Homo sapiens: one gene and its partner. The protein of the gene in region 2 purifies or fractionates together with the protein of the main gene of each other region. This does not show direct contact. Each region holds a gene or a part of one and is shown on either strand. Other genes may lie near its edges.

Region 1 (3,500 bases), on a different chromosome or scaffold from region 2:
GGCTTCTCTCTGATCACAGATTAAGTCCACTTCGCCCAGGAGCCCTTCCTCCTCCTCCTGTCCCCATGCCAGCTGCCTGGATTAGTCCCTGCACGGTACTGACACTGTCGTCCCTGCGGTCACTTGTCTAATCGGTCGCCCGTAAATCCCGAGAGGACAGAGCTGATTTTCTTTCTGTCTTCAGCCCTAGCGTCAGGCCTGGCCCAGAGCCCCCACTACAGGCTTTTTTGTTGTTTTTTTGAGACAGGGTCTTGCTCTGTCACCCAGGCTGCTGTAGTGCAGTAGTGTGATCATGGCTCACTGCAGCCTCCATCTCCCAGGCTCAAGCCATCTTTAATTTTTGGTAGAGATGAGGTCTTGCTATATTGCCCAGGCTGGTCTAGAACTCCTGAGCTCAAGCTTCCTGCCTGCCTTGGCCTCCAAAAGTGTGGGGATTACAGGCATGAGCCACCGTGCCCAGCCCACCCCCCCTCTAAACACACGGAGCCTCCTCCAGACGTGCGGAGCCTCCTCCAAACATACCGAGGCCTGGGGACATTTCTGTTGACCCAGAACTGAGGTAGTGGCCAGACTGCAATTTGAATTCAGGTCTTTCTGCTGCAAAGTATATGCTTTTTTTTAAAAAAAATTATTATTATTAGGGTTTTTTTTTGTTTGTTTTTTGTTTTTTTAGAATGAGTCTCGCTCTGTCACCCAGGTTGGAGTGCATGGTGCTGTCATGGCTCACTGCAGCCTCAACCTCCCAGGCTCAAGCGATCCTCCTGCCTCAGCCTTCTAAGTAGCTGAGAGCACAAGTGTGTGCCACCGTGCCTGGCTAATTTGTTTTTTTAAACTGCTCCATTGAGATATGATTTGCATAACATACAGTTCACCCATTTAAACCACACACTTCAGGCTGGGTGGCGGCTCACACCTGTCATCCCAGCACTTTGGGAGGCCGAGGTGGGCGGATGACTTGAGGTCAGGAGTTCGAGACCAGCCTGACCAACATCCAGAAACCCTGTCTCTACTAAAAATACAAAATTATCCGGGCGTGGTGGCGCATGCCTGTAATTTCAACTACTCGGGAGACTGAGGCAGGAGAATCACTTGAACCCGGGAGGCGGAGGTGGCGGTGAGCCGAGATCACACCATTGCACTCCAGCCTGGGCAACAGCAGCGAAACTCTGTCTCAAACAAACAAACAAAAAAAAACCCACACACTTCAGTGGTTTTTAATAAATTTGCAGCATTGCTCAGCTGTTACCATTCTTTCATTTTAGAGCATTTTCATAACCCCAGAGAGAAATTTTATACCCTTAAGTGGTCACGCTCCATCTCCCCTGTCCCCAGCCCTGGCACCCACGCGTCCCCTCCTGTCTCTGTGGATGGGCCTGTCCTGGATATTTCGTAGAAATGGCACCACATGGCCGGGTGCAGTGGCTCATGCCTGTAATCCCTGCACATTGGGAGGCCGAGGCAGATGGATCATGAGGTCAGGAGTTCAAGACCAGCCTGGCCAACATAGTGAAACCCCATCTCTACTAAAAATACAAAAATTACCTGGGCGTGGTGGTGGGTACCTGTAATCCCAGCTACTCGGGAGGCCGAGGCAGGAGAATCGCTTGAACCCAGGAGTTGAAGGTTGCAGTGAGCCGAGACTGCACCACTGCACTCCAGCTTGGGCAACAGAGTGACACTTCGTCTCAAAAAAAAACAAATGGCATCACACACTGTGTGACTTTTGTGTCTGGCTTCTTTCTCTGCATGTGACATCATCGGGCTGCATCCACACCGCAGCCTGTTCCAGAGCCTCATTCCTTTTCATGGCTGAGTCGTGTTCCACTGGGCAGAGGCCACATCTTGTCAGTCCATTCACTCGTGGATGGACCTTTTGTCAATTGTGAATCGCGCTGCTGTGAGTGCACGTGTGCAGATTCCTGTGTGGATGTGTGTTCATGTCTCCTGGCTGGATCCTGGCACTGGAGTCTTGGGGGTCATGGGATGACTCCATTTTAAAGCTTTTTTTTTTTTCTTTTTTTTTCTTTTTTGAGATGGAGCCTCACTCTGTCGCCCAGGCTGGAGTGCAGTGGTACCATTTCAACTCGCTGCAACCTCCACCTCCCGGGTTCAAGCTATTCCCCTACCTCAGCCTCCCAAGTAGTTGGAATTACAGGCACGCGCCACCACGCCTGGCTAATTTTTGTATTTTTAGTAGAGATGGGGTTTCACCTTGTTGGCCAGGCTGGTCTCGGACTCCTGACCTCAAGTGATCTGCCTGCCTCGGCCTCCCAAAGGGCTGGGATTACAGGCTTGGCCACCACACCTGGCCTAAAGCTTATGCTTTTCTAGCCACTGACACTTCCTCTACTCAACCTAAAGCACAGATGTGCTCAGGAAATTGTAAGTAGTTTATGCATTTAAATGTGACCATCGGCAGCTGCAGCTCTCTCTGGAATGGAATTCCGTCAGCCTCTGTTTCGTCGTACCCAGCTCTGTTGGGTCCTCCTTGGCTTGGAGGGCTTTGAGTTGAATCCTTATTTTTCTTCGGTCTGTAAGATCTCCAAGGACACAGGCAACAGCACCTCCTTTCTCCATCCCAGGGCCCAGCCTGGAGGGGACGGTGGCGTGTGCCTCTAGTCCCAGCTACTTGGGAGGCTGAGGCAGGAGAGAGTTCACGGGGGGATTCAGCAGACAGGCCTGGGAGAGGGGTCCGGGCAACACCTGCCAGTTGTACTGGGGCCTGTTCTCACACCTGTCTCCCTGGTCTCCCCTGTTTTAGTTCAGAGGAATATCCTTGACTTCCCCCAGCATGTTTCCCCCTCCAAGGACATCCGGACAGCCAGCACAGAGGCCGACAAGAAGCTCTCTGAGTTCGACGTGGAGATGAGCATGAGGGAGGACGTGTACCAGAGGATCGTGTGGCTCCAGGTGAGGGGGCCCTGCGGGGAGTGCAAATAGCCTCCCAAGTAACTAGGATTACAGGCGCCCGCCACCACACCCGGCTAATTTTTGTATTTTTAGTAGAGACGGGGTTTCAACGTGTTGGTCAGGCTAGTCTCGAACTCCTGACCTCAAGTGATCCGCCCACCTCGGCCTCCCACAGTGCTGGGATGACAGGTGTGAGCCACTGTGCCCGGCCCATTTTTTGTATTTTTAGTAGGCACAGGGTTTTGCCATGTTGGTCAGGCTGTTCTCAAACTCCTGACCTCAGGTGATCCGCCCGCCTTGGCCTCCCAAAGTGCTGGGATCACAGGCCTGAGCCACCACGCCCGGCCACACATGTGCACTTTCATTTCCTTTCCTGGCCATCCTAGTGTGACCCAAACACCCCATCCCCACATGGCGTGAGCTGGCAGGGCCTGGCGGCATGGCTGCGTGGGCTCCTGCTCCCCCGGATGCTCCTCGCAGTATGCAGTGGGGCCTTTGCTGTTGATGTCACATGATCAGGAGAGACCCAGAGACCCTCCTGCTGCTGTTCATCCTCTTAGGCGAGGACCCCTGGGAATGTGCTGATGTGT
Region 2 (4,283 bases):
GAAAATACAAAAAAAAGATAAGCATTATGGAGAGAAACGAAGCAGGGAAGGGGTTTAGGAAGTGTGTGATTAGAAGGGAAATAGTGAAAGACTTCCCTTGAGGTTTGAGAAGGAAGAGAGAGGGCGAGCTACGAGACTAACTGGGGGCAGAGTATATATCAGGCAGAGGAAGCAGCAAGTGCAAAGGCTTAGAGGCAGGACCTGTCTCAAAGGTTCTGAAAAACAATAAGGTAGTTATGGTGAGTATAGAGTAAGTTAAGTGGAGAGTAACTGGAGAAAATATAATGGGAGTTGAGATCACATAGAATCTTGCAGGTCTTTGAAAGAAAGCCATTCAGAACTTTTGATCACAGGATGATGAGAGAAATGCAGATTAAAACAACAGCACGAGGGAGGCTGAGGCGAGTGGATCACTTGAGGTCCGGAGTTTGAAACTAGCCTGGCCAATGTGCTGAAACCCCATCTCTACTAAAAATACAAAAAGTAGCCAGGCTTGGTTGTGCGTGCCTGTAATTCCAGCTACTCGGGAGGCTGAGGCAGGGGAATCGCTTGAACCCCCGAGGCAGAGGTTGCAGCAAGCTGAGATCGCGCCATTGCACACCAGCCTGGGCAACAGAGCGAGACTCTGTTTCAAAACAGAAACAAATACAAAAAAGCAACCACAACAGTAAGAGGTTATTTTATACTCATCAGCTGGGTGTTTGAAGGATTATGGTGATAGAAAAACCCTTGTGTATTTTCGGTGAGAGGGTAGGGAGATATCTCTGTTCCTATAAATGTCACTGATTTCTATTCTTCTTCCCCAAATGTAGGGGCTTTTTAAGATAAAGCATCAAGACTTTATGCTTCTTTCATTATCTTAACTCTTTGCTCCAAGAGGATGGCTCCAATTTATCACTCTTAACACTCAGACTTGAAACCCCAGATCATGTAATATTTCCTTCACTTCCCATATGCTGAGTTTTTATAACTTGTGGATTTCATGTACAAAATCTTTCACATCTGTCTCTTTCCTAGTCTCAATATCTCCACTAGCACTCAAAGCAGACACAATTGCTTTCAAAGTGATCACACAGAATTATTCCTGTTTGTGTCTGGAATTGTAACTGAAGAATTACTAAAAACCCCCAGAGTTGGCAATTTCTGCTGGCAGTGTCCTTTAAGATACACAACTTCTGATTACTGACTTCTGGTTACCCAGAATCCCTTGGGGTAGGAACACAAGCATAGGAAGAGCCAGCAGCAGGAGTTTCATGGTCCCTGGGAAACAGGAGAGGTTTCCCTGTTTCCCTACCCTGAACGCCAGGGTAGACCCAGGCGTTCAGAACGCTGTGTGCAGTGGGAGTCTGAACAAGAGTTATTGGCCTCTCTGCAATGAGGGCAGAGGAATAGAGGAATTAATGGAACAAATATATATTTTTAATTTTCTTGCCCACCCCCACCAGACTTACATTTAACTTGGTTATTTGCCCTCTAGGAATCTATCCTATTTAAGCCCATATCCATATATGTAAATATATTAATGTTTGTACAAGCATATTCATTGATGTCTTGTTCGAAAATTAAGAAATGTCTCAAATGGCTATATATGACTTTATATGGCTTATCCTACAGCAGAACTATACAACTTTACAAACAATAAGGCAGATCTTTAGATGGTGACATGGAAAGATGGCCACAAAATAATAAGTGAAAGAAGAGTGCTGCATAGGGCCGGGTGCGGTGGCTCATGCCTGTAATCCCAGCACTTTGGGAGACCGAGGCGGATGGATCACCCGAGGTCAAGAGTTTGAGACCAGCCTTGCCAACATGGTGAAACCCCATCTCTACTAAAAATACAAAAATTAGTCGGACATGATGGTGCATGCCTGTAATCCCAGCTGCTTGGGAGGCTGAGGCAGGAGAATTGCTTGAACCCAGGAGGCAGAGGTTGCAGTGAGCTGAGATTGCGCCACTGCACTCCAGCCTGGGTGACAGATTGAGATTCCATCTTCAAAAAAAAAAAAAAAAAAAAACACAAGAGTGCTGCATAGCCATGCAGGGAGTGTGCTTACTTCGTTATAAAACAGAAATATTTAGATTCATTTTTATGTAAGTTCGATCATACATTGAAATGCACCTTGAAAAACATAAAGGAGAAACAGGCTCTCTTCACCAGTGATTTCAAAGTTCTGGTCATGCCTTTAGATATACTTAAGAAAGCAGTGATTATGAAAAGCTTAGATTTTCACTGTAGAAGGAAGAAGAAAAGCCAGTTCTGTCTTCCGTGTAACAGCTCTACCAGTGTTTTCTGACTTGTTCACCAAATTCTAGAATATTAGAAAACAAAAAGAACCTCATTATAGCTATAGCAGGACTTTTAGGGCCAAGAAAACATAGCAAAGTGGGCTGCAGGAATCATTTTCAAAAGCTGGCACAATCTGGAAAGAGAACAGATGTGAGCCGAGCTTTCCCCTAGTTTCTTAGGCGGCAACTTGGAATATAGAACCAAGGACAACTCTGGATGGTGGGACTGCCCCTGTCTATTGAGGATAACTTGCTCTACTCCCAGGTTTTACCCCAGCCAGGAGCATAGTCCCAGTGTGGGAACTGTGGAGCTGCCCATGTTGGGGAGTACCGTGACACATTGGAATTTTCATGAGCCAGAACCCACTATACCTCTATTTTTGTATCTTCCCTGACCTCTGATTACCTGGGATCACTTGGGGTAGGAGCACAAGCATAGGAAGAGCCAGCAGCAGGAGTTTCATGGTCCTTGGGAAGCAGGAGGTGGTAGATCCAGGAGTTCAGAATACTGTGTGCAGTGTGAGTCTGAACAAGAGTTTTATTGGCCTCTCTGCAGTGGGGGCAGAGGGATGGGCACAGAACCAGCCGGATATCTAAGAGCTTATCCATGCATAACATCAGTCTAGTGTGTGGCACATAAGCTGAGCATTTGATCCAGGCACTGGGAGGGCATGCAGAGGGTTACAAGTCACAGGTTTTGAGGAGGTGTTTGGAGCAATGGAGAGGGAAGATTCACACTGGGACATCTTCCCTAGCTTTCCCCGATCTCTCATTAGGGCTCAGCCCTTCTTCACAGCCCCTCTCACTCTAGCATAAACCTACTTTTGAATGGTCTACTTATCTGTGTGTCTCCCCGCACCAGCCTGTGAAATTCCTGAGAGTAGGGAACGTGTCTTTCATTTTTGAGCCCCCAAGGCACGAAGCATGCTCTCAGTGAAGGTTTGTGGAAATAAACGATAATGAACACATGTCAATCTATAAGCCAAATCCCTCTCTTACATATGTGCCCAACAGGGAAAATGACTTGCCCAAGAAGTCACTTGCTGCAGAAGTTTGAGGGAGATCATTTATAAGACTCAAAGGGGGATGCTACCCAATGTCATTAAAAAAAAAATTCCCTAGCTGGGTGTGGTGGTGGGTGCCTGTAATCCAAGCTACTCAGGAGGCTGAGTCAGGAGAATCGCTTAAACCCAGGAGGTGGAAGTTGCAGTGAGCTGAGATCGCACCACTGCACTCCAGCCTGGGCAACAGAGTGAGACTCTGTCTCAAAAAAAAAAAAAAAAATCCCTGCTGAAGACAGATCTACAATAATTTGGGATGTTACCTTTGACAACGGCACCATGAGGGTCATCAGAGGTCTGGGAGCTGTCCATGAAGACCCCAACATTTAGACTTGCCTTTGGGATGTGGAACCTCGATGTCACCCCCAGAGTCAGCCTAGGTCCTGCATTGCTTTAGTTGCATTTTCATCGTGTTTCAACTTTTGCTCCCTCTTGTTTACTCGGCTCTAAAAGTCTCTGTAAAGCTTTTACAGAGGAGGTTGCTGATTTTTCTCTTCTGGAATTGATAACTTTCACTGTGAGAATAATTGATGGGAATTAGCAGGGTTGCCATGTGATTGAGGAGACTTCTCTTCTGGATGGAACCATGTGGAAAGCGTAGCATGGTGGTGGGCTATTTTCAAATTAATTTTGTTTTATGTTTTTATTTTTTTGAGACAGGATCTCGCTCTGTAGCCCAGGCTAGGGTGCAGTGGTGCGATCACAGCTCATTGCAGCCTCAAGCTCCTGAGCTCAAGCAATCCTCCCACCTCAGCCTCCTGAGTAGCTGGGACTGCCCAGGTATTCACCACCATGCCCGAATATTTAAAAAAATTTTTTTGGGAGAGACAGGTCTTACTATGTTGCCCAGGCTAGTCTCAAACTCCTGGGTTCAAGTGGTCCTCCCTCCTTGGCCTCCCAAAGTGCTGGAATTACAGGCATGGGCCACTGCACCTG

Evidence for each region. The genes of interacting proteins can lie anywhere in the genome.
Region 1: the proteins of DEFB118 (region 2) and THOP1 purify together in Homo sapiens (affinity purification with mass spectrometry; one large-scale study listed by BioGRID and IntAct). This does not show direct contact.

The regions. Positions count from the first base shown.
Region 1 is NC_000019.10:2,792,003-2,795,502, forward strand, and holds part of THOP1 (thimet oligopeptidase), read left to right. Parts: intron 1-2,761; coding exon 2,762-2,910; intron 2,911-3,500. UniProt on the Homo sapiens protein: Involved in the metabolism of neuropeptides under 20 amino acid residues long. Involved in cytoplasmic peptide degradation. Able to degrade the amyloid-beta precursor protein and generate amyloidogenic fragments.
Region 2 is NC_000020.11:31,367,118-31,371,400, reverse strand, and holds the start of DEFB118 (defensin beta 118 precursor), read right to left. Parts: upstream 2,801-4,283; 5' UTR 2,751-2,800; coding exon 2,693-2,750; intron 1-2,692. UniProt on the Homo sapiens protein: Host defense peptide that exhibits antimicrobial activity against both Gram-negative bacteria, such as E.coli and S.typhimurium, and Gram-positive bacteria, such as S.aureus and B.subtilis. Inhibits cell adhesion of E.coli on intestinal epithelial enterocytes.